Linked DNA regions of Homo sapiens. The protein of the gene in region 1 purifies or fractionates together with the protein of each later gene. This does not show direct contact. Each region holds a gene or a part of one and is shown in the gene's direction. Other genes may lie near its edges.

What was found.
Region 2: the proteins of ZMYM2 (region 1) and PCK1 purify together in Homo sapiens (affinity purification with mass spectrometry; one large-scale study listed by BioGRID and IntAct). This does not show direct contact.
Region 3: the proteins of ZMYM2 (region 1) and HNRNPH3 purify together in Homo sapiens (affinity purification with mass spectrometry; one study listed by BioGRID and IntAct). This does not show direct contact.
Region 4: the proteins of ZMYM2 (region 1) and CHSY1 purify together in Homo sapiens (affinity purification with mass spectrometry; one large-scale study listed by BioGRID and IntAct). This does not show direct contact.
Region 5: the proteins of ZMYM2 (region 1) and SFMBT1 purify together in Homo sapiens (affinity purification with mass spectrometry; one large-scale study listed by BioGRID and IntAct). This does not show direct contact.
Region 6: the proteins of ZMYM2 (region 1) and ELSPBP1 purify together in Homo sapiens (co-immunoprecipitation; one large-scale study listed by IntAct). This does not show direct contact.
Region 7: the proteins of ZMYM2 (region 1) and CAPN10 purify together in Homo sapiens (affinity purification with mass spectrometry; one large-scale study listed by BioGRID and IntAct). This does not show direct contact.

Annotation. Positions count from the first base shown.
Region 1 is NC_000013.11:19,993,227-19,996,726, forward strand, and holds part of ZMYM2 (zinc finger MYM-type protein 2), read left to right. Parts: coding exon 1-693; intron 694-3,500. UniProt on the Homo sapiens protein: Involved in the negative regulation of transcription.
Region 2 is NC_000020.11:57,559,367-57,564,318, forward strand, and holds the start of PCK1 (phosphoenolpyruvate carboxykinase, cytosolic [GTP]), read left to right. Parts: upstream 1-1,743; 5' UTR 1,744-1,837; intron 1,838-2,005; 5' UTR 2,006-2,045; coding exon 2,046-2,269; intron 2,270-2,704; coding exon 2,705-2,886; intron 2,887-3,329; coding exon 3,330-3,533; intron 3,534-3,661; coding exon 3,662-3,849; intron 3,850-4,198; coding exon 4,199-4,361; intron 4,362-4,802; coding exon 4,803-4,952. UniProt on the Homo sapiens protein: Cytosolic phosphoenolpyruvate carboxykinase that catalyzes the reversible decarboxylation and phosphorylation of oxaloacetate (OAA) and acts as the rate-limiting enzyme in gluconeogenesis.
Region 3 is NC_000010.11:68,335,064-68,338,563, forward strand, and holds part of HNRNPH3 (heterogeneous nuclear ribonucleoprotein H3), read left to right. Parts: intron 1-2,135; 5' UTR 2,136-2,158; coding exon 2,159-2,270; intron 2,271-2,794; coding exon 2,795-2,933; intron 2,934-3,439; coding exon 3,440-3,500.
Region 4 is NC_000015.10:101,241,659-101,246,094, reverse strand, and holds part of CHSY1 (chondroitin sulfate synthase 1), read left to right. Parts: intron 1-4,436. UniProt on the Homo sapiens protein: Has both beta-1,3-glucuronic acid and beta-1,4-N-acetylgalactosamine transferase activity. Transfers glucuronic acid (GlcUA) from UDP-GlcUA and N-acetylgalactosamine (GalNAc) from UDP-GalNAc to the non-reducing end of the elongating chondroitin polymer.
Region 5 is NC_000003.12:52,906,035-52,910,470, reverse strand, and holds part of SFMBT1 (scm-like with four MBT domains protein 1), read left to right. Parts: intron 1-2,737; coding exon 2,738-2,916; intron 2,917-3,156; coding exon 3,157-3,402; intron 3,403-4,229; coding exon 4,230-4,358; intron 4,359-4,436. UniProt on the Homo sapiens protein: Histone-binding protein, which is part of various corepressor complexes. Mediates the recruitment of corepressor complexes to target genes, followed by chromatin compaction and repression of transcription.
Region 6 is NC_000019.10:48,021,757-48,026,192, forward strand, and holds the end of ELSPBP1 (epididymal sperm-binding protein 1 precursor), read left to right. Parts: intron 1-413; coding exon 414-571; 3' UTR 572-578; exon of another isoform or gene 579-620; intron 621-3,195; 3' UTR 3,196-3,398; downstream 3,399-4,436.
Region 7 is NC_000002.12:240,589,198-240,593,633, forward strand, and holds part of CAPN10 (calpain-10), read left to right. Parts: intron 1-145; coding exon 146-277; intron 278-1,617; coding exon 1,618-1,814; intron 1,815-2,735; coding exon 2,736-2,953; intron 2,954-4,436.

The DNA of each region.
Region 1 (3,500 bases):
CGTCAGTGGAAGATGATGATGATGTTGTTTTTATCGAACCTGTACAACCTCCCCCACCTTCTGTACCAGTGGTAGCTGATCAAAGAACCATAACATTTACATCATCAAAAAATGAAGAACTACAAGGAAATGATTCCAAAATTACTCCTTCCTCAAAAGAGTTGGCATCTCAGAAGGGAAGTGTAAGTGAGACAATTGTCATTGATGATGAAGAGGACATGGAAACAAATCAAGGGCAAGAGAAAAATTCCTCCAATTTTATTGAACGAAGACCTCCTGAGACTAAAAACAGAACCAATGATGTGGATTTCTCCACTTCCAGTTTTTCAAGAAGTAAGGTAAATGCAGGAATGGGTAATAGTGGTATCACCACAGAACCAGACTCTGAAATTCAGATTGCTAATGTTACAACTTTAGAAACAGGTGTAAGCTCTGTGAATGATGGCCAATTAGAAAATACTGACGGGCGAGATATGAACTTAATGATTACACATGTAACATCACTGCAGAATACCAACTTGGGAGATGTCTCTAACGGACTGCAGTCAAGTAATTTTGGTGTTAATATACAAACATACACCCCATCTTTAACTTCACAGACCAAGACTGGAGTAGGACCTTTTAATCCTGGTAGAATGAATGTGGCAGGAGACGTTTTTCAGAATGGAGAATCTGCAACTCATCATAATCCTGGTAAGCAGTAAGAGATACTCTACTTCATGTAAATGAATTTAAACTTTTGGCTGCTGCTTTTTTCATTGTAGTAACTGGTATTACCTTGTTTAGTTTCATCATGTGAAATATGTGAATTATATTGAATTTTATCTTAAGTTTGGTATTTTAATAAGAATTGTAAAACCATGTATAGTATTTTTCTGTGGATTACTAAAAAGTTAATCATAAAGTAGTTTTATATTTAAAGGATTTAAGAAAAAAATACTCTTTACATTCATCACCAAAGTCTGATAATTTGGCCGGGCACGGCGGCTCACACCTGTAATCCCAGCACTTTGGGAGGCCAAGGTGGGTGGATTGCTTGAGCCCAGGAGTTCGAGACCAGTCTAGGCCACATAGCGAGACGCCATCTCTAAATTTAAAAAGCAAAACAAACAAAAGAATGAAGTGTGATAATTTAATATCTTGTTTGTCATGCATTACTTTTTGCTAATAGAATTTTTACTAGTGTTTTAGTATATAAATTAGAGAACCAAAAGATTAATATAATAGCACACTTAAAGAACAGTGTAATATTGTACAGTAGTTGCATTTAGATTTTTTTTTGAGATGGAGTCTTGCTCTGTCACCCAGGCTGGAGTGCAGTGGCGCAATCTTGGCTCACTGCAATCTCCGCCTCCTGTGTTCAAGCGATTCTCCTCCCTCAGCCTTTCAAGCAGCTGGGATTATAGGCGTCCACCACCACGCATGGCTAATTTTTGTATTTTGTATGGGGTTTTATCATGTTGGCCAGGCCAGGCTGGTCTCAAACTCCTGACCTCAGGTGATCTGCCCACCTCAGCCTCCCAAAATGCTGGGATTACAGGCGTGAGTCACTGCACCTGGCCGCATTTAGATTTATTTCTACTTTCCCTGTGCTTATTTAATTTAATTAATTAGTTAATTTTTTGGGACAGGGTCTCTCTCTGTCGCCCAGAGTGGAGTAGAGTGGCACAATCTCAGCTCACTGCAACCTCGACTTCTTGAGCTCAGGTGATCCTTCCATCGCAGCCTCCAGAGTAGCTGGGACCACAGGTGTGAGCCACCATGCCTGGCTAAATTAAAAAAAAAAAAAAAAATTATTTGTAGAGACGGAGTCTTACTGTGTTGCCCAGGCTGGTCTTATACTCCTGGGCTCAAACATTCCTTCTGCCTTGGCCTCCTAAAGTACTGGGATTCTAGGTATGAGCCACCATGCCCAGCCATTTTATTTTTTATTAAGAGTTGGCTAAGGTTTTATTTTTCTCACATTTGAAGAAAGCCAAACATATCATCCTTTTTTTCTTTTCTAAAACTACTTTAAAGTTATGATTGACATGCAAAAGGCTGTATATATTTAATGTCTACAACTCGATAATGCCGTGTTTATTTTTGACCACGTATCTTTAGCTTTTAGTTAGCATTTTACTACTAAAAAATTTTTAAAAATTATTTTTATTTTTCAAGGGCATAAATAAGCAATACTTTTTTTTCTTATTTATTTGTTTATTGACAGAGTCTTGCTGTATCGCCCAGGCTGGAGTGCAGTGGTGCAATCTCGGCTGACTGCAGCCTCTGCCTCCCTAGTAGCTGGAATTATAAATGTGTGCCACCATACCCAGCTAATTTTTGTATTTTTAGTAGAGACGGGGTTTCACCATGTTGGCCAGATTGGTCTTGAACTCGTGGCCTCAAGTGATCCATCTGCCTTGGCCTCTCAAAGTTCTGGGATTACAGGTGTGAGCCACTGTACCCAGCCCCCCACCTTTTTTTTTGAAGGTTGATAGTTTTCTTGACTATTTGAAATTGTTTTCTGTGAGCAGCCTTGTTCTGTGAAAACTTTAAAATATGGAAGTGATAAGAACTCTGTGCCAGCCTGGACAACGTGGTGAAAAAATACAAAATACTGAAAATATGAAAAGTTAGCTAGGCATAGTGGTGCACACCTGTGGTCCCAGCTACTTGGGGGGCTGAGGTGGGAGGATTCCTTGAGCCCCATAGGCAGAGGTTGCAGTGAGCCAGGATTGCACCACTGTATTCCAGCCTGGGTGACAAAGTGAGACCCTGTCTCAAAAACAAAACAAACTCTGTGACTTTTTCATGACATGTCTGTGGATGTCTCTCTCTCTCTTTAACCTCTCCCCCAATTCCTCTGTGTGTGTGTGTCTATCGGCGTTTCTCTCTCACATGCCTCTCTCTGACCCATTCTGTCATCATTTTAGGCTCATTATCCTAGGGATTGTGGAGAATAATGTGAAGTAACTAAAATCTAGGCAATGTAGAATGCTATATGAATTGCTAGTTATTTTTCTTATTTGTCGAGTAATGTCTGATTATTGAAGACTGCTTAGAAAATCTATAATTTAAAACAAGAGCTGGTGCCAAGCATGGTGGCTCATGCCTGTCATCCCAGCACTTTGGGAGACCAAGGCAGGAGGATCACTTGAGCTCAGGAGTTTCAGACCAGCCTCTGGGCAACAGAGCAAGACCTTGTCTCTACTAAAGATAAAAAAAAAACTAGCCAGGGCTGGTTGCGGTGGCTCAAGCCTGTAATCTCAGCATTTTGGGAGGTCAAGGTGGACGGATCATCTGAGGTCAGGAGTTTGAGACCAGCCTGGCCAACATGGTGAAACCCCATCTCAACTAAAATACAAAAATTAGTGGGGCATGGTGGTGCATGCCAGCTGCTCGGGAGGCTGAGGCACGATAATTTGTTGAACCTGGGAGGCGGAGGTTGCAGTGAGCAGAGATTGCACCACTGCACTCCAGCCTGGGCGACAGACTGAGACTCTGTCTCAAAAAACAAA
Region 2 (4,952 bases), on another chromosome or scaffold:
TATCAGCAAAATGGGACTTTCTACCAATTTGGTGGGATGAGTCTCGCCGGGAGTGATGTGTGTGTCACGGAATTGTGGTCATGCATCGGGATGGCTAATTCACTGATGTCAGATGCTAACGAAGTGGCCTCGGCTACTGAGCATCACGTCACTGTTGGGTTTAGACACAACACGATCTTATGTATGGATGACAGCACCACTAATAACAAATGCCAGTGACCTAAACGGGGAATAACTTCAAATGAAACAAAAAGCACCTCATATCATATTTATCCTGAAAGACACAACTGGCTGAATAAAATCTGAATACAGGAAACATAGCAATGGGTTGATAATTTTGGTGGAACTTGATGATGTGTGACCCACGCCCAACACAGTGTGACCCAAGCCCCCAGGAGGGTTCTCTAAGTGAGTTTGGTCGGAGGCTGCCATTCACAGTGACTTGTATTTGCCACAGCAGCTCTTTCTAAGCCCAGTCCTGGGATTATCTCAGGGATCATCCCACACCCCAGCGGGGAGATGGGCCAAGTCCCCACCTGACCTCATCTTAGGTAGAGAGGCTTCCATGGAAGTGTGGGCTGGCTGTGGGGGGTTGAGACCTAGCCCCGTTCTTTTGACATTTCACCCTGTGTTCTCCAAACTCCAGCAAGCAGCTTCCATAGCTCATTAAATTTGACTGAAGGTCTGATGGCTTGCAAAGCAAATTCTTTACAACTGTTATAAAGGTTTCATTGCTTAAGCATATAATCTAGCAAAACTGCCAAGCCCCCTCCACTCCCTAAACTCTAAGACTTGCCAGGGAAGAGAACAGTGGCCAGTGGACTGCAGGAGTAACTGCACTCAGCCCAGAACTCCCTGGAGGACACAGGGAAGGTTCTGGAAAGGTGGCGGTACCTCACAGGGAGAGACGTGGTGCTCCAGGGCCCAACTTGCTCATGTTCAGATCCTCACTCTGCAACCCACCAGCCGGCTGTGAGTGGCTACACAATCTCTGCCTCAGTTTCCCTATCTGTACATGGGTTGTTCATAGCCTCCACCTCAGAGGGTAGTAATGATGCCAAGCTCTTAGAACAGTGCTCAGCATGTGTGCATCCTGTGCCTACTCTATGCCAAGCACTACAGAGAGAAAAATGAACAAAATAGGGAGAAATCCCTGCCCTCATGGAGTTTACATCGGGGCAGGGGGCGGGGGCGGCACAGAGCAGACAATCAATACAGTGATTAGCCCCCAGTTAGGTTAGGCATTTCCAATCTTTGCCAATAAGCCACATATTTGCCCAAGTTAGGGTGCATCCTTCCCATGAACTTTGACTGTGACCTTTGACTATGGGGTGACATCTTATAGCTGTGGTGTTTTGCCAACCAGCAGCTCTTGGTACACAAAATGTGCTGCTAGCAGGTGCCCCGGCCAACCTTGTCCTTGACCCACCTGCCTGTTAAGAAAAGGGTGTTGTGTTTTGCAACAGCAGTAAAATGGGTCAAGGTTTAGTCAGTTGGAAGTTGTGTCAAAACTCACTATGGTTGGTTGAGGGCTCGAAGTCTCCCAGCATTCATTAACAACTATCTGTTCAATGATTATCTCCCTGGGGCGTGTTGCAGTGAGTTGGCCCAAAGCATAACTGACCCTGGCCGTGATCCAGAGACCTGCCCCCTGACGTCAGTGGCGAGCCTCCCTGGGTGCAGCTGAGGGGCAGGGCTATTCTTTTCCACAGTATTTAAAGCTGGGAGGTTCTGCCACCAAGCACGGCCTTCCCACTGGGAACACAAACTTGCTGGCGGGAAGAGCCCGGAAAGAAACCTGTGGATCTCCCTTCGAGATCATCCAAAGAGAAGAAAGGTAAGTAGAGCTTTGCATTTACATTTTGAAAAATTACAAAGATGAACTCATTTTTTTCCTGAGAGCAATAACTATTTGGCAATGCACAGCCCTGGCAAAAGGCCGTCGAATGTGTTTGAAGGTGTCTGTTGTTGTTTTTGTTCAGGACGCTTGCGTTTTCTATTTCAGGTGACCTCACATTCGTGCCCCTTAGCAGCACTCTGCAGAAATGCCTCCTCAGCTGCAAAACGGCCTGAACCTCTCGGCCAAAGTTGTCCAGGGAAGCCTGGACAGCCTACCCCAGGCAGTGAGGGAGTTTCTCGAGAATAACGCTGAGCTGTGTCAGCCTGATCACATCCACATCTGTGACGGCTCTGAGGAGGAGAATGGGCGGCTTCTGGGCCAGATGGAGGAAGAGGGCATCCTCAGGCGGCTGAAGAAGTATGACAACTGGTAAGCTCGGCCCCCGCTGCCTGTCCCAGCACCCTGCAGGCAGGGCTCCCCTGCGTCTCCTGGGAGTTGGTGGAGAAAGGTGAATGAAGGCCTTCGGGTAGTTTCAGACTCTTGAGAAGATGAATGCAATGGTCAGAACCATACAGACTTGAATTTTGTGACATTAGTGGGCCAGCCCAAGCTTTAAATGAGGTGTGTGCACAAAAGCTCTGCCAACTAGATTCCTGATTAAAAAAAAGGCAGCCCCTCTCCTACAGACCAGGTCCTAGTGGAGTAAATGTCCACCTGGCCATGTCTTAGATGGTCTGTGTGTTCACACTGATGGACTGTTGTTAGCGTGCTCAGCACTCTGCTAGGCATGGAAAGCCACGGTACTGAAGGAGATGGTTCGCTGCCCGTGGTGCTTGGCTGAAAGGAAGCCTGTGATTTTTGCAGCTGGTTGGCTCTCACTGACCCCAGGGATGTGGCCAGGATCGAAAGCAAGACGGTTATCGTCACCCAAGAGCAAAGAGACACAGTGCCCATCCCCAAAACAGGCCTCAGCCAGCTCGGTCGCTGGATGTCAGAGGAGGATTTTGAGAAAGCGTTCAATGCCAGGTTCCCAGGGTGCATGAAAGGTGAGCGGAACATTGATTTGATTGGGTAAAACAGCAGAGAGCCTTTTCTTATTTACATCTATCCTAATGGTAATTCAAACAATAATGGAAGCTCCCACCACCTCAGATGTCTTTCAGTTCCATACATGAAGTTGGCAATGTATTGAAAATGCACATCCCTCTTCTGCTTTTACAGACTGTCTTATACAAACGTGAAAACTAGTTCCATGCATATGGGTTTTAAATAGCTTGGTGGGACCCAATTGCACATTTATGAAAACTCTTTAATTTCAGCAGGCTGTTCACTTTCCAGTGGCCTCTTCTAACCCAGGGGGCTGGTGACCAGCAGGGTGTGGTGGTGTTAGTGGAACACCGTGAAAATGGGTCTACCTGGGAAAAAAATGCTGGTCGTGTTCGAAGTCCAAGGTCATTTCTCACCAGTGCCCACCCATCGCACCCTGTAGGTCGCACCATGTACGTCATCCCATTCAGCATGGGGCCGCTGGGCTCGCCTCTGTCAAAGATCGGCATCGAGCTGACGGATTCACCCTACGTGGTGGCCAGCATGCGGATCATGACGCGGATGGGCACGCCCGTCCTGGAAGCAGTGGGCGATGGGGAGTTTGTCAAATGCCTCCATTCTGTGGGGTGCCCTCTGCCTTTACAAAGTAAGTGTATTATTTCAGAATCAAAAGTCAAAATAAAAAAGAAAGCTGAACGCAAACCCCAGTGAGTGCCTCGGGGACCCCCAAGCAGGGCCCTGGCGCACTGACTTGGGAGGGGTCCTTGTTCACAGAGCCTTTGGTCAACAACTGGCCCTGCAACCCGGAGCTGACGCTCATCGCCCACCTGCCTGACCGCAGAGAGATCATCTCCTTTGGCAGTGGGTACGGCGGGAACTCGCTGCTCGGGAAGAAGTGCTTTGCTCTCAGGATGGCCAGCCGGCTGGCCAAGGAGGAAGGGTGGCTGGCAGAGCACATGCTGGTGAGCCTGCAGGAAGCCCTGATGTGCAGATGAGAGGCCTGGGGGGTGGCAGAAACAAACAGCATTACAGTTCCCACCCGTCAGCACACCTCTCTGAGCGTGCAGGTTCCCGGACAGATCGGGAAACCCCACCAGTAATGATTAGTTTACACATATACATCGCTTTTGAAGGCCCCCAAACACCAGGGGACCATAGAGATCCTTTGGACTTCATGATTCTGGGAGTGTTTGTTTGCACTGATACCTGAAGAAATAGATCTTGAGGGCCTACATTCCAACCTCTGGGCTGAAGTACCAACCTCGGGGAGAAGGAAACAAAGATCACAATAAAGAATCTTGTCCCCAACAGATTCTGGGTATAACCAACCCTGAGGGTGAGAAGAAGTACCTGGCGGCCGCATTTCCCAGCGCCTGCGGGAAGACCAACCTGGCCATGATGAACCCCAGCCTCCCCGGGTGGAAGGTTGAGTGCGTCGGGGATGACATTGCCTGGATGAAGTTTGACGCACAAGGTGACTCTTTTAGACCCAACTCTTGGTAACGATTGGACTCAAGCGAATCGTTGGCCTTCGAAACATGTCACATTCTCCTCAGTCCAGTGTTTGGATTTTTAAACTCTGTTAGTCCAGAGTTGGCCAAGCCTTAGAAATATGGATCCTGTAAGAATTCTTCAACTTAATATTCAATCTGGATTGAAACTGGGCCATATGTTGCTGTTTGTTTACATACATACATTTGTTTAAATGGTATTGGTGGAAAATTGTGGAGGAAGCAAGAGTCGTAAACGTATCAAAGTTGCATATGATGCTTGGATGAAAAGAGATAAATGCATATTCTAGGGAGGGAAAAAAGATTTGAGAAGTTGGCATAGAAATTAGTCCGGCAATATATAAGAGTATATGTTCTGCTTTGCCTGGCACTCACTACTGCTTCTCTGGTTTAAAACTCTCCAGGTCATTTAAGGGCCATCAACCCAGAAAATGGCTTTTTCGGTGTCGCTCCTGGGACTTCAGTGAAGACCAACCCCAATGCCATCAAGACCATCCAGAAGAACACAATCTTTACCAATGTGGCCGAGACCAGCGACGGGGGCGTTTACTGGG
Region 3 (3,500 bases), on another chromosome or scaffold:
AATTGTGTTAACAGTTTAGTGTTTCTTACAGATAACACTGATAACACTTTTTTTGTTTTCATTGGGTCTTATCATTGGTACAGACTGATCCAAAAATCCAATTGGCTTGCTAGTAATTTTTTCCTGTGAATTGCTAAGATTTATGGGTAAATTAATTTTTCTTTTTCTTTTCTTTTTTTTTTTTTTTAAGCATTTGCTCCTTAAATGCAAATCGTACCACTAAGATCCTCTCACAACAGATTAAGGTCGAATTTGCAGAGTTCTTCAATTTTTCATGAAGCAGTGAGGGTAGATCTGTACCACTTTTTCCGTTCTGTGTAAATCACCGTTTATGGGAAACACTTGTTTTTTAGGTTGGTGCTATTTAAAAAAAATAAATAAAACGGTAGGCATTTTCAAAACATCTCTGAACTTTTTTTTTTTCCCAAACTGGATTGGGGCCGCCTCCTCTCAGAGCTACTCTTTAGAATAGTATTAAACTTATAAAAGCCTTTGCTGGCTTTGGGAAATAAAATTTTTAATAATTCTCAGTTCTTTTCAAGGCTTGAATTGTTTTCTGTCCTTCAGGGTTCACATATTTTGTGTATGGTATAGCTCACTGGCTTTTGCAGGGCCCCTTAAAGTCCAGTAACAATTGCCATCAGTAAATGCTTACCATGAGGCAGACCAAGCACTTGAATAGTCCAGTGAGGTACAGGTACAACTGCTATAGTTTACAATTGAAGAGGCTCAGAGGTAAAGTGGTTCAGGTAGCCAGTGAGTGGCAGAGTAGGGATTCAGACCCAGAACATTCATAATATTTATTTGTGTGCATAACAAGTAGTTGTAATGTCAGTTAAAAGTTTGTATTCCCATTTTGGTTTTCTATGTCTAGAGTGGCACCTAGGGCTGAAGGTGATTGACACTAGAGGTACTTAACTACTTCCAGAGAATTTCTACATTAGCTTATTTTAAGTGCATGAATTCTAGGGAAAAATATTTTACCCTTTGCAGATGCCACCCCTAAGAGATGCACCAACAAATAGATGACATGAAATTAAGCATTAGTGAATGCTGTTGATACGAAATATGATCTTCAAACATAAAGGAATCAAATGAACAAACTTTGTTTACAGGGGAGGAGGTGGTGAGGGAAAGGTTTGAAATACTCAGGTGAGTAGGATTCCTACAGCTGCATAGTGAGATTTGTAAGGTTCTGGTAAGTTTCTGCAGCTGAAGGACTTCTGCATTCACCTCTTTTGTAAATATTATGGAATTTTAAAAGGAAGGATGGTTGCCTCTGGGGAAGGGAACTGGGAACTGAGGTTATTTTGGAGGGGAAGGGGGGCTTCTAGATGTACCTTTTATGCTTTATTAAAAAGTATATTACCTATTAAAGTTTGTTTAAATCTATTTGATTAAAAATTTGAGTAAACTGGTTTCTAAACACTGTCTCCAGTGGCTTCAAAAACACAGGTACTGTTGGAAGGCATTCACTTTTGAGTGGCCTTTGACCTCAGTTTTAATCTGATTAATTCAGTCATTTTATAATCTTGCTCTTGGTGAGTTTAAACTAGATTTGGCTAAAATAGAGGTGGGAGTGTTGGCCCTTCAAAGACAGTTTGATGTGTTCAAAATTGTAGTGCATTTAAAAGGGTTAGACTTCTGTGATATTTGTCCAACGTCAATCAGTACTCATTGCATTTTTTTACTTAGGCTCTTGATGTTAGTGGATACTGGTATTATATGCAACTTCTGAATAAGTTTTAAAGAATTTGAATAATCAGTTGAATAAAAACCTGAAAAGTGGTGAATGAAAATTTGAGAGATAAGGAAAGGCTAGAGTTGGCATTCAGGGGACACAAATAGTTTGAAGACTCTGGTAGTAGAATTATGCAAGTTTTCTTAAAATTAGGCAATATATAATATTGATACTACGAAATTCAGTACTTTTCCGTAGGAGGGGGTCAGGTCTCATTGCCTTTTCCGTACCCCAAAATATGAAAGGTGGTCTACAATTTTGTTGTGGCATTGTCACAGCAGTTGGCCCCATGTTACATTTCCTCTTGTGGCACCTCTGAGAGGTGTTTCTTCATTACCTCTTGACAAGAGTATATTTTGATTGACTGCTCTATGTGCTTGTTTATTTTTTATAGCATTTAAATCAAACGGTATTGAGATGGATTGGGTTATGAAACATAATGGTCCAAATGACGCTAGTGATGGGACAGTACGACTTCGTGGACTACCATTTGGTTGCAGCAAAGAGGAAATAGTTCAGTTCTTTCAAGGTACCTCTAGTATTAGTCAAAGTTTAGTAGTATTGTAATTTTATATTTGTATTGTTTTACTGTTTTTAATTTGTAAAACCCATTTGATTTTGGAACTTTTAAGTTTAACTATGATAGTCTTGGTTAATGTATTAAAATAATATGCTCCAGTTAATATTCAATACAGAATGTGTAGAATATGTAAAACCTAGTTAATGTGCAGTAACATATTTGAGAATTGTGATGAAATGAACCGTGAATTAGTATATGGAGCATATATTTGATTTTGTAGCCTTTTTTCATGTAATATAGGTGGGCTTTTAGAGTGTGTAATTACACAGTGTTTTTACACTGGTCGCAAAAAATTTATTTAATCCAGTAATATTTGAAAAAATCTTTCATTTGTATTATGGGGTGATGGGAAACTAAGCTTTTTTGTTTTGTTTTGTTTTGTTTAGACTTGTTTTAAATATTTGATTCAGATGGGAATGTTTCAGCCTTTAACACTGTTCCCCTTGATGGGGTTATTTGTCCTTGGGTTAAAGGGTTGGAAATCGTGCCAAATGGGATAACATTGACGATGGACTACCAGGGGAGAAGCACAGGGGAGGCCTTCGTGCAGTTTGCTTCAAAGGAGATAGCAGAAAATGCTCTGGGGAAACACAAGGAAAGAATAGGGCACAGGTGGGGATGGAGAGTTTGGGATGGTGTTAAATTTTTATTTTTGGGGGTTGTGGGTCACTATTGCTTAAATGGGGGGGTAGCCATAACATTTTTCTGGGGTAGTTTAAAAGAATTGATAATTATCTAAATTTAACTTGGAAACTACAGATTTGGGTGGGGAATTAATGCTAATAGTTAAATTAAAATTAGATTGTTTCCATTTCTCTGTAGGATGTTGTTGATAAATGCTTTTGTATAATCACCTATTTCCTTTAAAACACCTATTATGTACTAAAAGAGACAAAGTAAAAATATACTTTATGAATTGTTTTCCGTGACTAATTTCTTTGTAAAACTTAAATATTTAATTAAGTTTGTAGGTTTAAACTGTTAACTTACGGTGTATTTAGGCAATTTAAATTGGGTTATGTATCTAGATATAGAAAAACTTACTGCATTTTGCCCAGTATCTAATTTACACTAATACATTTATGCTGAAACCTGTACCTTAAAACATTTTTAAATAGGTATATTGAGATCTTCAGAAGTAGCAGGAGTGAAATCAAAGGATTTTATGATCCACCAAGA
Region 4 (4,436 bases), on another chromosome or scaffold:
TCTGATTTCAGGATACTATTATCAGTGAATGATCTCTTCCTAATGCCTTAAATGAAGACGGACTGTTCCTCTACCAACCTTAATGAGATCCTCCTATCTTATAAATCTGAATTCATTTCCTTATTTCTTGAGCTAAGTAAACCATGTTTATCTTGAAACAGTTCAGAGCAGTCCTCACTTTCTTAGATAGAATTCAACTTGGCAAACATTTATACAGAAGGCTTTTCCATGTAAAATCCAAATAATCAACCTGTAAGTGAACTTTTGGAGCACCAAGTCATTTCAGATCGTGAATTTCCTGTAGGAGACTAGGGAACCATGTGGCTCTGAAAATGAGTGTAGTTTTTTATGTCAGGTTCAAGATCTTGAAGCGCTCAAACAATATTCCAGGGATTTCCAGGGATGGCTGTGGCTGTCAATAGCGGATTGATTCCAGGGATAGATGTGGCTGTCAATAGCGGATTGTGCGTGACTGTTTCCATTGCACCGGCAGCTTCACGTTCCCCTGTCTGTTAACTAAGCTGCTCTTTATTAACAGTAGATTCCAAATACAGGGCCCTAGTCTCTGCAGAGTTCATTGTCTCAGAAGGAAACGAGCGATGGTATTGGTTGATGAGGGCTGTCAGGGTGCGTGAACTAATCACTGTGGGGGAGCAGAAGAAAGAGGCTTACACCCAGTGGGTGATGGATCAAGAAATGTCTCACCCACACTCCCACCCTTTTTTTACCCACTAGCTGAGTCTTGGAAGATGAAGAGGTGTTTTTGAGGCAGAGACAACTACAGGTTTCCTACAACATGAAATGGCAGGAGTTAGTGAAGGAGCGATGGGAAAGGCCAGCTCTTTGGGGCTAGGTGTAGGCTGTGGGTGGTAGAGTGGTGGGCAGGGACATGGAGGGAAGGTCTGCGTGCCAGGCTTTGTGTGGTTGCTGTCCAGAGCTATTGGTGACATTTCGGCAGGACAGTAGCCTGATGGGATGTGTGTTTTGGAAGATCAGCCCAGCGGTGTTGCTGCTGCAGAGGGTGGCTAGAGTTGGTCAAGTACCGGTACCTAGCTAGAGCTGGACAGGACCGGTACCTGTTGAGGGACGCTTGGGTAGCATTTATCAAGAAGTCTAAAATGCAGCTCTCTTGAGGTCTGGCAATTGCTCTAGAATTTTTTCCAAAGGAATTTTAAAGGTGTGCTTAAATGTGTACATATGAAGTGGAAATTTCAGGTATTTTAGGTGTCCTGCTTTAGGAGATAAGGACCAAAATTGACTTAACTGATTCATCCATACTGTGGTCTGCATCTCTAACAAGTAAAAATGGTGTGGCTGAAATACTTTTATTGACATGAGGAGAGGTTCAGAATATACTTAAGTGAAAGTAAACTGTAAAACAGTATGGCCAGTACAAAGCCCTTCTGTGTTTAAAGTAAAACAAAAGTGTATGTTTGTGTAGCATAGAAAAGGAAACATCAAAGGATGTACTCACTGTGATGCCAAGTGATCTTTTATATTCTTCTTAGCTCTTTTCTATATATTCTGGTTTTTCTACAGTAAGCAGTTATTTTGTAATAAAGCTACAGTAAAACCACAAAAAGATGTCAGCTCTAAGAGAAACTGCATTCCATTTTGAGCACGTTAGGCTGCTGGTGTGGAGGTCCGCTAGGCACAGAGCTGCAGCCCGTTCTCGTTTCAGTCAGTTACCATTAATTCTGTCCTGAAGTGACAGAATTAGCTTAGCACACATTTACTTGGTTAGTGTCACAACCGTTTTCCTCAGTTACTGTAACTTCACGCTTCCAGGTGACATTGGGGAGGATCTGGTGGCAGCATTTTCAGTGCAGGGGCCTCAGCTTTTGTATCTTAATGTAAATACTCAGTGCTTCCACCTGTTGTTGAGGCCTTTTTGGCTTCTGGTTCCGGATGGCATTGGGTGAACAAGAAAACCTAGCTACAGTTTACAAGCATAAAAGCTGTCCATCTTCTCACCTGAATTCAGTGTCATCTCTGAAGCATTTATAGCTGCAGCATTTTTTCTGTAGACAAATACATTTTCTGGATGATTACAAATAAGGTCCAGTCTGCTCTGATGTGGTGTCAAGTTGATGCCTGTAAACCAAAAGCCTGAGGATTATTGACTGTAGGTGTTGAGGCCATTGAAATTGTGGTTTTCTAGGTGGACCATAGGCGCAAAGACTGTTACACTTTGCTCGGCGTGTTTGGTAACTGATGGCAGTGTCTGCAGGTAATTGGGCACAATTTAGAGGCGCACACGGATCCAGACACAGAATGTGGCCTCAGAAGCTAACACTGGAATCAAGTTGTCTGGCCTTCAGTTAAATCCAGCCCAAGCACTGCAAAGTTGTCCTTGACCGGCAGGTTTTGTCCAGGTTTTCAAGTCGCCAAGCCATGCATGCTGGGAGTGGGTCTGAAAGTGGTTGAAGTGTGTGTAAGGCTGGTCTCCTTATCCACGATGACTGTTTGTTCAGCCTTAGCAGTGTCCGTGAGCCTGGAAAAGTGATGTGGGTGACCACCTGGGAGGCGCGTGTGTGGGATGGAAAGCCAGTGTGGAGGCTGTGGGGCCAGGGTGGCTGGTGACTGTGTTTAGGTGGGCTTTATAGAGGACGGTGCCTCAGTTCAGGGAGACGGTGATTTGCAAAGTGGTCGGCCAGAACAAGTTCAGGGTGGTTTAATTGTTTGCATTAAACGATACTGATTTTTGGTTCATGTGGATCATTAAGTATTAGTCGCATATTTATACTTTTAAGGATACAGCAGCGATATGCAAATTATGAAAGGAGCTCTCCAACACTTTCAAGCTTTGGAAATGTCTCATGAGATCAGAATTCGTCTTCTGTCATTTACACTCCAAATTTTAATTGTGATGTTTCAAAAGTGGCCTATTTGTGGTCTCTGTTCCCATTGTTTGCCGTGAACCTGGGCTCAAAGGGCGGGCTCCTCGTAGCTCTTAATACCTTGGAATGCCGTCTGGGCTTGTGCCCAGGCCATTGTTGAAGTGGGAGGCTGTAATCCCCCCTGCCAACAGCTTAATTAAGAAAAAAAAGGGCTCTTTACTGCTTGCTTTCCCCTCAAGTCTATTTTTTAGGATGGACAGTAAGGAGTATAATTTGGTTTTTCTTTTAAAATAATTTTCCCACCATTCACAGCCTCTGTTACATTTTCCCACCTCCTTTCAAAAAGGGTTTGAGATTGGACAGGTCATAAGGACGTGCACGATGAGACAGTTAAAGGTTTTGAAAGAGGAAACCACATACCCGGAAACCACATGCACAGAAGTGGGAAACTGCAGCTGAATGCATTTGCTGCAGAGCTTTTGGGACCAAGGCAGAAGATGGAGATGAGGGATTGAACAGTGTTTGCAACATCCTGCCAGAGGGGATTCCTTCCGGCCGAGGAGAGGCCCGTGGCATCACTTGGTGGCCTTGAAAGACCCCTCCCTTTTCTGAAGGCTGTGGCTCTGGCTGGCAGCATAGAGTGGTGCCCTCCGTGTACTCTCTTGGAGGATGAACTTGGACTGCTGCTCCATCACACTGTACTTCCTGTAAGGATACCTCCATCATTGACCTTGGGAGAAGTTTCCCTCAGGCCTTAGTATGTTTTTACACTTAACCCTGAACAGTAGGACACAGTCTCGTGACTTCTCATGGCTGCCTGCTGAAAAGTTTGTAGCTGAATTTGGGCCCACCACTAGCACATCCGTAGGTCACGTGATGGCAGGTAGGTCTCAGCACAAGAGCACTTTGCAGTTGAAGTGGTGGCTCCTGAGAGTGCTCTCACTGAGTCAGGGTTTGCCCTGGGCAGGGCAGCCTCCACCAGGATTTGCCTTTCGTTCCTTGCGTAAGGGTTTCCTACTCTTACTTTTCTTTGGTCTCATTTTCTTGCTGATTTTTCTCATCCTGTATGATTTTGGTTAAGTTGTCTTAAATCCCTTCTGTAACAGGGGAGAATGTAAATACAGCTGGCCCTGCTATCTGCTACATCTGTGGATTCCACCATCCATGGATTGAAAATATTTGGGGGGAAAAACAATAGAAAATAACAATAATAAAAACAATACAAGTAAATACAATATAGTATAACGACTATTTACATAGCATTTACATTGTATTAGGTATTATGAGTAATCTAGAGACTATTTAAAGTATACAGGAGGGTATGTGAAGGTTTAAGCAAATACTGCACCATTTTATATCAGGGACTAAAGCGTCTGTGGATTTTGGGGTCCTGGGATCATTCCCTCTTGGATGATAAGGAACAGCTGTATATACCCTTAATTCCTATTATCCATCAGTTCTACAGAGAGAAAAACCCATATCCTCCCTTCTTTAACTTCCAAGATGATTTTATCATGAGTCCTTTTAAACTGACTGCCGTGTAGCCATCAGACAGCACATGTAATAGTGATTTTGGGGAACTCACAGAAAATCTCC
Region 5 (4,436 bases), on another chromosome or scaffold:
AATTTTTGGCTTGGGGGCTATACCAAAACAGGTCATGGGCCAGACTTGACTCATGGGCTTTAGTGTGCCAACTTTTATATATAGCATGTATATAAATTAGTTATTGTATCTAATAGGATATGTAATTCATTCATACAATCTGCAAGTATATATTTTGTGCTCATTGTGTGCTTATGCTGCTCTAGCACTGGGATACAACAATAAAGAAAACAAATTCCTATCCTCAGTGAGTTTACCTTTAATGTGGGAGACAGATAACAAACAAGGGAAGAAATTTAGAGAGGGGTCAGTATTTAGAGAAATACTGTGGGGAACAGTGAAGCAAGGTGGGCAAGCAAAATAGGACAGTGAGGAAGGCTGGGAGGTGGGGTGCTGTTTATGCAAGGGGTCAGGGAAGTCTTTCTGACAGGTAACACCTTGAAGGAAACAGGAGCCAGCTGTGCAGAGAGCTGGGTGGGAGTGTTCTGGGGAGGGGGCATCAAGGGCACAGGCTTGAGGCAGAAGCTTGCTTAGTGTCTCTGAAGAGCAGCAATGAAGCCACACTAGTTGGGGAGGTGGAAATAGGAGAGGAGGTAGTTGCAACCTCACCTTGAACTGTCATAGCACCTATTCGCTGTCCTTGCTTATCTTCTTTGAGAAACTGGGGCAGGGGTCACATAGGATGAAATTTACAATTTGGAGCCTTGTCAAGGCATTGCCACCCAAAGACAAAATTCTGATCCTACCTTTCCTTAAATCCTACAAGCCCTATGTCACTTGGGAGAATCACTACAGAGGAGGATTTTTACCTTGTTAAAATGGAAAGATTTCTTTTAGGGATCTGTGCCTCTTAAACTATAGTGCATGCAGATCACTGAAGGATCTTGTTAAAATGGAGCTTCTGATGTATCAGGTCTGTGGGTATCTGGGTCCTGAGTATCTATCTGCATTTCCAACAAGTTCCCAGATGCCACTGATGCTATTGATCCAAGGTCCATACTTAGTATGACGAGCTTTCTAATCAGTATTTAAATTACAAAATCTTATAAGTCTAACCTTCTAGTTTCTATTTATATTTATTGGATTGTAAACTCCTTAAGAGTAGGAATTATCTTAGCTTCTTGTATCAGACTCAGCACTTAGTTTAGGAAACTGCAATTATTAGGAGCTGAGTGAAAAATACTATTCATGTAAATGCATATATAAGCACACTACTCTGAAGGAAGATATGTGAGGGGAAGATATGTGGATTTTATTGTGCCTTTTGTCTGAATTTATCTTTCACAATAATATAGTTGAAATTAGCCTAGAATTTAGAAGGACAGTTATAATTTTTCCCAGTTAGTAATTTGAATGATGTCAAATGGATTCGTATCCTTTAGAAAATTTCCATTTTTTTCACAAAATTGTATTATATTTTGATATTACTTTAATACATAACTCAGCTAGAATATGTATGTTTCATTTCTGGAATGTATATTCTAAAATTTATATGAAAATGCAGAGGATCTAGAATAGCTGAAACAATTTGGAAAAAAGAATAAAGTTGGAAGACTTAGTCTCTCTCTTTTTTTAACCATAAAGTTATAATAATCAAGAGTGTGGCATTAAAGAATAGTCAAGCCGGGTGCGGTGGCTCACACCTGTAGTCCCAGCACTTTGGGAGGCCGAGGCAGGCAGATCACCTGAGGTCAGGAGTTCAAGACCAGCCTGACCAACATGGTGAAACCCCGTCTCTAGTGAAAATACACAAATTAGCTGGGCGTGTGGTGGCAGACGCCTGTAGTCCCAGCTACTCAGGAGGCTGAGGCAGGAGAATCACATGAACCCAGGCGGTGGAGGTTGCAGTGAGCCAAGATCACGCCACTGCACTCCAGCCTGGGTGACAGACTCTGTCTCAAAAAAATAGAACAATGGGACAGACCACAGGGTCCAGAAATAGAGCCAAACTTAACATGGTTAAATGATTTTCAACAAGAGAGATGAAGAAATTTAAGGGAGAAAGGAAATTCTTTTTAACAAATAGCACTGGTACAACCAGATATCCAAATAGAAAAGAAACATATAATAAAACACACGACTCAAAAACATTATGCCTAGTAGAAGAAGTCACACATGGCTGCTGGACGTGGTGGCTCATGCCTGTAATCCCAGCACTTTGGGAGGCCAAGGCGGGCAGATCATGAGGTCAAGAGATTGAAACCATCCTGGCCAACATGGTGAAACCCCGTCTCTACTAAAAGTATAAAAATTAGCCGGGCATGGTGGTGTGTGCCTGTAATCCCAGCTACTCAGGAGGCTGAGGCAGATGAATTGCTTGAACCTGGGAGGCAGAGGTTGCAGTGAGCCGAGATCGTGCCACTCCACTCCAGCCTGGCGACAGAGCAAGACTCCATCTCAAAAAAAAAAAAAAAAAAAAGTCACACACAAAAAAGTGCTTACTGTGTGGTTCCATAGAGGCAAAGCTAATCTATAGTGATAGTGTTTAGAATAGTGGCTGCTTCTAGTAAGGGGTACTGACTGGGAAGGGACCATGGGAGCTTTCTGGGTTGAAGATGTTCTATATACTTTGATATGGAGGGATCATTCAGTACTAGTCAAACCGTGCACTTCAGATCTGTTTATTCCACTCTATGGAATTTAAACCCCAATCAAATACAATGTACCTGTTTTTTGCTATGCTAATAAAATCTCTTGTGGTTTTGAGGTACACAAAAATAATGAAGCTACTTCATTTTTCTTTGTCATCCACATTTAGCACACTATTACGGAAAGAAGAAAAATAAAAGAATTGGGAGGCCACCTGGTGGGCATAGTAACTTAGCTTGTGCCCTGAAAAAAGCCAGTAAGAGGAGAAAGAGGCGGAAAAATGTTTTTGTTCATAAGAAGAAACGCTCCTCTGCATCTGTTGATAATACCCCAGCGGGCTCTCCCCAGGTATGAGATCTGTGATGTGCCTGTAATGTCTTGAAGCCAAGTGACCACTGCTTTATAGTATGGACACAGAATACCTGCAGGTCTTTCTAACTCAGATCTCTGGCCAATAGAAGATGGTTTTGTGGCCCAAGAACTGGTTTGTCCTGAATTTCTTTTCTTTCTTTATTATTTTTTTTTAATCATATGAAACCTGGGATTGATGTCCTGAATTTCAATGAGACTTCTCTCCTTTTCCTGCAGGGAAGTGGGGGTGAAGATGAGGATGACCCAGATGAAGGGGATGATGATTCCCTAAGTGAAGGCAGTACATCCGAGCAGCAGGATGAGCTACAGGAAGAATCAGAAATGTCAGAAAAAAAGTCATGCTCCTCTTCTCCCACCCAAAGTGAGATATCCACATCGCTGCCTCCAGATAGACAAAGGAGAAAAAGGGAGCTTCGCACCTTTTCATTTTCTGACGATGAAAATAAACCTCCTTCACCAAAGGTACCATTTAAAAAATAGTTTCTTTTTTCTTTCTTTCTCTCTGGAATTTCCATCTGGAATATGATTATTAGTGATATTGACATTCTACTTCTTTCAATACAGACTTATGTAGAATTTCCAGGGTCTCTTGTAAAGTGACCCCAAATGCAGTGATTTACATGTGTTTCAAGGATTAGTTGAGATCATCTACTTATAGGGGGAAAGTCTCTCTCAGAGTAGCTGCTTGTTTTAACAACAACAACAAAAAAAGCCCCATTGCTAGCTTATTTGTAGCTTGTCATTTATTTTTGGGAAAACTGCCTTTTTAATATGTTTCATAATATATATGGTTTTGTAGAAAAAAGTTATCCTTTTGATTCTGGTTAAGCCATTTGGCTTAATATATTATTTACTATATACATATGAACATTTTATAACATATGTATAACACTAAAGAACAATTTAGTGTTCAAAAACTAGATTGCTTTTTAAGAATATTCCATGAACAGAAGCAGTAAAGATTCCTCCTGGTAGTTTAGTTAAGCCTTCTCTCAATGGAATTATCATCCCCTTCTCTTCAGCACCCTGTTTTTCTTAGTTAAATTGTCTAAATTATCTGTGCTGGAACTTTGAGATAAATTCTTTCCCATTGATACTTCGTATTATAAAAGACAGACATTTCCTGAGTACCTGATGCACGTGGGTCTTTGCCATCTTTGCTGGGAGAAATCATGTCCTAAGACCACTTTAAATCATGTCTTGAAAGATTATGAATTTAGGTAGAGAGACTTTTTTAGAATAAAATAGCCGTAACACCATTTGGTTTGATTGTGTTGTGGGGAATGAAGGAAATAAGGATCGAAGTTGCTGAAAGGCTTCACCTGGACAGTAACCCCTTGAAGTGGAGTGTGGCAGACGTTGTGCGGTTCATCAGATCCACTGACTGTGCTCCATTAGCAAGAATATTCCTAGACCAGGTAATCACAGATACCTATAATTTTTAGTAATGTCTCTTTAGCAATAAATTATGGATGTAATAGTCAACAATTTATTTA
Region 6 (4,436 bases), on another chromosome or scaffold:
ATATTTTAGAGACCGGATCTCCATCTGTCACCTAGGCTACAGTGCAGTGGTGCAATCATGGCTCAATGCCGCCTCGACCTCCCAGGCTCCAGCAATCCTCCTGCCTCAACCTCCCGAGTAGCTGGGACTACAGGCATACACCACACCCAACTAATTAAAAAAATTTTTTTTGTAGGGACGGGGTTTCACTATGTTGCCCAGGCTGGTATTGAACTCCTGGCTTCACATGATCCTCCTGGCTCAGCCTCACAACTGAGCTGGGATTAAATGCGCGCGATTAAATGCTGGGATTAAAGGCGCGAACCACCACACTCAGCCCCAATTTGAAATCTAGGGTGGGCCTGAAGCCCACGCCTCTACGACAGTGTGAAGCCTGAGGAGTAACCTTTGTTTTATCCCCTTCTGCTTCCTAGGAATTTCCGCGTTGGTCCCTGGCTTTCCTTGTCACTTTCCGTTCAACTATAAAAACAAGAATTATTTTAACTGCACTAACGAAGGATCAAAGGAGAACCTTGTGTGGTGTGCAACTTCTTACAACTACGACCAAGACCACACCTGGGTGTATTGCTGATGCTGAGGTGAGAGCAGGGACCAACAGTGGTCATTTCACGGATGCAGAGGTGAGACAGGTGCACAACTGGTGTGTCACTGATGCGAAGGCGAGATCTGCTTTTTCAAGCGTGTCTGATTAGCGTCGCTGATGTGAAGGCGAGATCTGTTGCTTTTCCAGCATGTCTGATTAGCTGAGGTTCCCAGCAATGCGGGCTCCTGTTGTCAAAGATAAGGTGGAGTTGGGGAAGACTGGAACAACTCCCCAGATTAGAAGGATGAAAGAAATTGGGATTTCCCCCAGAAGCAGGAGAGCAGAGGGGGATTGGCAAACTTTTTCAGACCCAGGAAGGTATCATTCCAAGTTTCAAGTCTGGGAGGCTTTGGCTGTTGATGATTAGAAAAGTGGAATTTCTCAAAGTGGAGCATGGTATGAAAAAACAACCCAGAAAAGGGGATAACTGACCAGCTGTGGTGACTCACACCTGTAATCCTAGTGCTTTGGGAGGCCAAGGCAGGAGGATCAGTTGAGGCCAGGAGTTTGAGACCACCCTGGGCAATGTAGCAAGACCCTGTCTCTACAAAAAAAAAAAAAATTAGTTGGGTGTGATAGCACACATCTGTAGTCCCAGCTACTCAGGAGGCTGAGGTCAGAGGATCCCTTGAACTCAGGAGTTGCAGTGAGCTATGATTACACCACTGTACCCCAGCCTGGGGAACAGAGTGAGACCTTGTCTAAGAAAGAAAAAGAGAAAGATGGACGAAAGGAAGGAAAGAAGGAAGAAAGATGAAGGAAGGAAGGAAAGAGAGAGGGAGGAAAAGAGAGAGGAAGGGAAGAAAGGAGGGAGGGAGGGAAGGAAGGAGGAAGGGAGGGAAGAAAGAACGGAGGGGAAAGGAAGGAAGGAGGGAAGGAAGGAGGGAGGGAAGGAAGAAAGAGGAAAGAAAGGAGGTAGAGAGAGGGAGGAAAGAAGAAAGGAGGGAGGAAAGGAAGGAAGGAGAGAAGAAAGGAAGGAGAGAGGGAAAGAAGGAAGGGAGGGAGGAAGGAAAGAAGGAAGGGAGGAAGGAAGAGAGGAAAGGAGGGAGGAGGGAGGGAGGAAGTGAGGGAGGAGGGAGGGAGGGAAGGAGGAAGGGAGAAAGTAGGAAAGGGAGGAGGGAAGGAATGGAGGAAGGGAGGAGGGAAGGGAGGGAGGGAAGGAAAAGAGGAAGGAAATAAGGAAGGAAGGGAGGAAGGAAAGAAGGAAGAAAAGGGAAGGGAAAGGAAGGGAAGGAAGGGAGGGAGGAAGGAAGGAAGGGAGGGAGGGAGGGAAGAAAGGGAAGGAGGGAAGGAAGCAAGGAAAGGAAGGATAACCCAGAAGCCAAGACACCATGGTGTGCATCCATTGCCCCCATCACTGAGTAGCTGACCAAGGGAAAAATGGGGTTTATTTCTCTTCCTTCACCATTTGGGCCTCCTGCCCCACCTCAGCCCGCTGGTCATCAAGTACCTCCACAGAACCAACTTTATCCCTCTTTTCTTTTTTTCTTTTTTCTTTCTTCTTTCTTTATTTTTTTCTTTTTCTTTATTTTATTTATTTATTTTTTTTGAGACGGGGTCTCACTCTGTCGCCCAGGCTGGAGTGCAGTGGTGCAATCTCAGCTCACTGCAGCCTCTGCCTCCTGGGTTCAAGAAATTCTCCCACCTCAGCCTCCTGAGTAGCTGGGATTACAGGGGTGTGCCACCATGCCCAGCAATTTTTTTTTTTTTTTTTTTGTATTTTTAGTAGAGACGGGGTTTCACCATGTTGGCCAGGCTGGTCTCAAACTCCTGACCTCAGGTGATCCATCCAACTCGGCCTCCCAAAGTGCTGGGATTACAGGCGTGAGTCACTGTACCTGGCCTATCCCTCCTTTTCTTCTAGTCTTTTCCTCTCTCTACATTCTTCACAAAGGACCAGCTGATTGAAGCAGGTGGTGCAGAGGGTATTTCTAAAGGTGGTTATTTAAGCTTGAAAGATGTTCTCCAGCCTGTAGAAATGGTCTCTAAATCTCCCGCATGGATCAACTGACCTCACTGCTCTGTGACTTCTGGAATCTAAATAAAAAAAGAGAAGCCCTTTCATCAGATGTGTAGACAAAACCCCATCCCTCCTCCCTTTGGGGTGGAAAACCCTGGTGGTTCTAGCAATGTCTGTCCTTACAATGCATGTGGCTTATGGATGACACTAAATTAGCGGGCCCTTCCTGAATTTTGCCTTGGTAATGAAAATCATCTTCCTGGAATAGAGGAGAGGGAAAGGAGGGGGTTTGGAACTCTGGGCACCATCTTAACAGGGTAGATATTAAAAAACACCCACAGTGGCGTTCAGTCTGTGGCTAGGACTAGGAACAGCGTCCAGCCTCTGACTTCTGTCCATCACAGCAGAACTGGCACTTTGCAGGTCCCCTTCCCCTTAGCATAGAGGTGAGATTGAGGAGCTCATTGTTCATTGATCTCCTTGCTCCTATGAGCTAGGCAGGGATGTGGGGGTGGGGGCGTCTGATTCCTCTCAGCTCAGCTGCTTCCGACTAAGTCTGGAAAACCAATACAAAGTCATTTTTAATTCACCTTCCTCTTTGAGTCAATGCCTACTTATTCATTAAACTCAGATCTTTGCTTCTATTTTCAAGGAAAGGAGAAATATCTTCAGAGGAAGACTGCCGCCATACTGAGGCTGAGCACAGATTTGTCTTTTTCATTGCATCTGTCAAGCTTAAATAACCACCTTTAGAAATACCCTCTGCACCACCTGCTTCAATCAGCTGGTCCTTTGTGAAGAACGTAGAGAGAATGCGGCATAACCACCAATAAAGGAGTCTTGATTTAACCCTGGGATCTGCCTTTTCTGCTTCCTAAGATGAGACCGATGGTGAATGTGTGGGGAAGGAAAGATTGGTAGCCAGGCTGTCGAGTCTCATAGTGTGGAGAGGTCAGACTCTCAGGCCAGGGACCTCTAGGAGTCATTACAGCCTGCTCTGTCTTCTGAGGGAAATCACAGATTTGGGTGGGGTGTTTGTAGATACATATTAAATTATTAATGAATAAATTAGGAAGTAAACAGAGGGTAGAAAATTCACCACAAGACTGCCTCAACCATTCCCTCCCTGTGCCCATGGCAGATATCAAGAACTGATTACAGAATCTGATTCCCTCTCAGCCCAGATGGAAATTCACATTGTTGTTCTTGTTCTTTCTTCTTCTTCCTTTCACTCTTCTTCTCCCTCTCCTCCTCCTCCATCTTCTCCTCCTTCTCCTCCATGTCTCCTCTTACTCCTCTCCTACTCCCTCTTGTCCTCCTTCTTCTACTCCTCCCTCTTCTCCTCCTCCCTCTCCACCTCCTTCTCCTCCTCCCTCTCCTTCTCCTCCTCCTTCTCCTCCTCCCTCTCCTTCTCCTTTTCCCTCTTCACCTCCTCCTTCTCCTCCTCCCTCTCCTTCTCCCTCTCCTCCTCCTCCCCCCGCCTCCGTGTCTTCCTTGTGCTGGAATTCTCTTACCCCTTGTCTTCCTGCAGTCTCCTCCTCCCTTCACTCATTGTCCGTGGAATTGCCCCTGTGATGGAGATAGACGTGGGCTTCCTAGATCCCCCTTCAAGAAAGGACTTGCTGCCCAGCTCCAGTGAGTGCTGTCTGCAGGCAGCCTTTGGTGTTCAGCCCAAATCAGAGATGGTCTCAGCTTCAAAATGGCCTCCCTCGCCCAAACCATGCCCTTCCCAGGGTAGGCCACAACTAACGAATGACCAATGCTGGGTTTAAAGGCCTGGCTATTCCAGTCCAAGTGAGATAACTCAAAAAGAGCTACATCCAGAGCTCCCGTCTGTTCCGCTGAGGTTGTAGAGCCTGCACCGTGGCTCAACCTCTCCCTCTGTCCAATCCC
Region 7 (4,436 bases), on another chromosome or scaffold:
GAAACCACCTTCCTGTCCCTTTTTGGGTAACACTGATGATCGGAAAAGCTCCACCCCAACTCCTGTCATCTAGAGCCTTGGGTTCTTAGTTTGAAGGGTTCCACAGCAGGCATGATCTAACTCTGGACAACTTTCTGTATCTCAGGAGATTTGTGCCACACCCCGGCTGTTTCCAGATGACCCACGGGAAGGGCAGGTGAAGCAGGGGCTGCTGGGGGATTGCTGGTTCCTGTGTGCCTGCGCCGCGCTGCAGAAGAGCAGGCACCTCCTGGACCAGGTGCGGGGCCCCTTCCCTGTGTTTGTCCTGGAGCCGGTTTCTTTTTGCGTTTCTCCAGCCTGCTGAGTACCAGGAGGCCTTGCGAAAGCAGAGCTGTGCCGCAGCCGGATCTCCTGCTGTGTTGGGGGAAGGCAGGAGAGTTCCAAGGCAGAGGCTGAGGACTGCACTCTGTCCCTCTGCTGCAGGGGGGGGTGCCTTGGCCTCGCCAGAAGGCTCCATCAGGGAGGTTCGCCCTGCTCTGTGCTCTCCTGACCCCCGGACTCCATGGAGTCAGATCACCACGTTTAGAATAAAGAGACAAATGTGCCAGCTCACAGGAGGACGGGGCTGGCTGGCAGCCTCTGCCTCAGATCTCTCCTCAGCTAGCTCGCTGGTTTTCTTACAGGTTTTGAATATAAGTTTGCAAAAAGTTATTAAACCTGTTTCTGTGGGTAGACAGATACTCTGGGAGGAGAAGGCCTTCTCAGGTTTTCCTTACCTGGGAGTGTTCACCGTTTTATGCTTGGCTTGTTGCTAAGTGTTGCTGATTAATGCAGCGGCGTCAACAGTGTGACCTCATTCAGAGTTTCACTCATGTCCCAGGCCCCATGGTAAGCGTGTCACAGTCACTGGCTTTCAGACACATGGTCTTACCAGCTTTGACTTTTTTTTTAAACGAGAGTGCTAAAATCACTGCCATTGTGTTTCTGGCCGTAAAGTGGCAGAGCCAGGACCGCACCAGGTGCCTGGTGCCCAGCCTGCACTCCCCCGATGCTGGGTCAGAATGCTTACCCCTGAAGGAGCCCTGCGGTGGACGCTGTGGGTGCAAGCAGCTGGCCCAGTGTCGGGGCGCCAGGCTCCCAGCAGCAGGAGGGGCTGCTGTTCCTGTGGTGACGTGTTGCTTGCAGCCAGCTCGGTCAAGAACTGGGTCACTCATGCCCTTGAATGTCACATTTGTTTTGGCTTCAGGTCAGATGCTTTTAGTGAGGGCAGCAGAGTGTGTCCCGGGATATGTGGCTCCCTCGGTGTGGTCCTCAAGTTTTGCAATGAGAGGTCTGTTAATTTCATGTGGGTGATGCAGCCCTGTGCAGGCGCCGACATCCAGGTGTGCCGAAGAGTTCTCTGCGACATCCAGGTGTGCCGTAGAGTTCTCTGCGACATCCAGGTGTGCCGTAGAGTTCTCTGCGACATCCAGGTGTGCCGTAGAGTTCTCTGCGACATCCAGGTGTGCGTTAGAGTTCTCTGCAGACCGCGGTGCCTGTGGAGCACTCAGCTGTGGCCACACCGCGGCCGGGACACTGGAGTAGCGCCGGGTGGTGCTTATATCACGCTCGCCTTTTGCTTCTCCCTGTGCATGGCAGGTCATTCCTCCGGGACAGCCGAGCTGGGCCGACCAGGAGTACCGGGGCTCCTTCACCTGTCGCATTTGGCAGTTTGGACGCTGGGTGGAGGTGACCACAGATGACCGCCTGCCGTGCCTTGCAGGGAGACTCTGTTTCTCCCGCTGCCAGAGGGAGGATGTGTTCTGGCTCCCCTTACTGGAAAAGGTCTACGCCAAGTGCGTGTGCTGGGGGCTGAAGGGCCTGGCCTGGGGCAAGTGGGAGCTGCCACTACCATGGGCTGCCCCAGGAGGGTCTCTGCTCACTCTGGGCTGCAGAGCCCCCTTCAGTTCTGAGGGTCTGGCAGCTCATTCTGTGAGTCAGGCTGACAGGCCAGGTGCAGAGATTCTTCTTTTGGGCCTGTGGATTGCCCACTCCCTGCTTTCCCTTCCCTTGTTCCAAAGCCCAGCGTGGAGTCGTTCTCCACAGAGAACATGTGTGCCGTCCTCCTTATTTTATCGGCCCCAGCAAGAAAGATGCTTCTTTATATTTGTTGTGGAGTGGTTGGGACAGGCAGACTCATTGTGTAGTCGTTGGGGAGGAATGAGGCTACCCCAGCATACCAACACTTGTGTATCACGGTGCTTGCTGGCTCAGGGGACCAGGACCCTCACCATGAGTCATAATTGAATAGCCTTCCCTCTTAGAATGCATTTGTCTTCTTGCCAAAGGCAACTGGACTGACAGGCAGGCAGGGAAGCTGGTGAACATGGGAAGGCTGGCTGGTGACATCAGTGCCCAGTGAGCCCTTCCATCCCAAGGGCTGTTTTAGGAAAAGCAGGGTTGGAGCTTGAGAGCCAAGGGATGTGGGCATCCATAGCTTCCACGCCTCCTGCCCTGCTCCTGTGCCCACACCGGATGCCAGAGAGTTTCTGTGTGTGGGCAGAGGACTGCAGGGCGCTCACGCTTGCTGTGAAGTAAGGCGTTTGAAGGTGAGGCTAAGCCTTGACTTGGTGAGGATGAGGAAGAAGGCAGAGGGGAGTAAAGAGGTGGGATTGAGGCAGCGGTTGGACGATTTGGGGTGCTACAGACCATGGGAATCAGAGAGGGGGCCATGCTCAATGCCAGAGGCTCACTCCCATGGTGATTGTGTCCCCTAGGGTCCATGGGTCCTACGAGCACCTGTGGGCCGGGCAGGTGGCGGATGCCCTGGTGGACCTGACCGGCGGCCTGGCAGAAAGATGGAACCTGAAGGGCGTAGCAGGAAGCGGAGGCCAGCAGGACAGGCCAGGCCGCTGGGAGCACAGGACTTGTCGGCAGCTGCTCCACCTGAAGGACCAGTGTCTGATCAGCTGCTGCGTGCTCAGCCCCAGAGCAGGTGAGGCACGTGGCCAGCATGGGAGGGCTGCAGCCAGCGTGCCCCCCACTGCCAGGCCTCAGGCACACTGTAGCTTTTTATGTGACTGGCTACACAGCCCTGTCAGGACTAAGTGGGAAGAAGTAAGCTTGTTCTCAAGGGTGGTGTCCTCAGTTTGTGACCTTCCCCTACTGTCCTCTTCCAGAGGGACGTGGCCCTTCTCTCCCCTGACCAGTCCTTTCCACTAGTGCGAGGCAGGAAGAGGTGGCACCGAGTCAAAGCCCACTGTCTGTGCCATCCCTGGCCCAGCTGGCAACCTGGCAAAATCAAAACCTGTTTTTTATTTTAGTGATAGATAACATTCGTTAAAAACAGTTTGTCTCCAAAAAATGAAAGGGGCCAGGTGTGGTGGCTCACACCTGTAATCCCAGAACTTTGGGAGGCTGAGGTGGGAGTATCGCTGGAGCCCAGGAGTTCAAGAGACCCGCCTGGGCAACATGGCAAGATCTCATCTCTACAAAAAATGAAGGAAAAAAATCACTTAGATGGAACCACATGTGACTTTTGAGTGCGCTCTCAGTTTTCCATGAGCACGCACGGTTTACGTGTTCCCTTCCGCACCGCTTCTCACACTGCCACACACGCGCTGTCAAATGTTCGCCCCATGAGCGGGTTTGCCACAGTCTCTTAATCATTCCCCTGATGTTGGATATTAAGATCTCTCTGGTTTTATATAATTATAAGCAGTATCAATGAACATCTTTATCATTTTTTTCATACTTAGGATTATTTTAAAAATATGGGTTAAAGAATATGAATATCACAGTAAACTGAAACAAGTTGTCATAGGCCTTGGTCTGGGTCCCCCATAAGCAGACCCTGAGATGAGGTTCAGGAGCACGTTGAGAGGTTCAGAGAGCCTGGAGGGCGTGTACTCCCCGCCAGCCCCGCTGGGGTGCCAGGAAGGACGCTGGCCTCAGAGCCTCCCACCTGGGAGTGAGGGCGCTGGTCTGGTGGGCATTAGCTCGGGGAGCTGTTGGTTTTGGGTGCTCCAGGGTGGGGTAGCGCTAAGTCCTAGCACTTCAGGCTTTAGAGGAAGCCCCCAGGCAGAGAGAGATGGCAGCTGGCACTGACTGGAGGTGCATTGGAGCCTGCTGAGGTGGCAAGGGGCCGCGGCGTGGGCGAGACTGAAGTCCTTCCAGGAGACCCTCCTCTCTAGACCGTTGCCCCGCCACAGATGTGGCCTTCCTCTCTGTTTGGCTCTTTCTTTTCTATGCCCATCTGTCTCAAGGTCTCTGGCCAGGTGGAGCTGTTGCCCCCCTGGGCCTCCATGCCTCCAGTGGGCTTCTAGCCAGGGCACTATCTGAATGTCCTACCTCTAGCAGGCTTTGCCAAGAGAAACACTCTCTAGATTTCTGGCAGTTGCAGATGCATCTGTGCAGCATGTTTGAGAACTGGTGCTGTGCCAGGCATCGTGCACAGATGGGTACGGACGATGACTGAG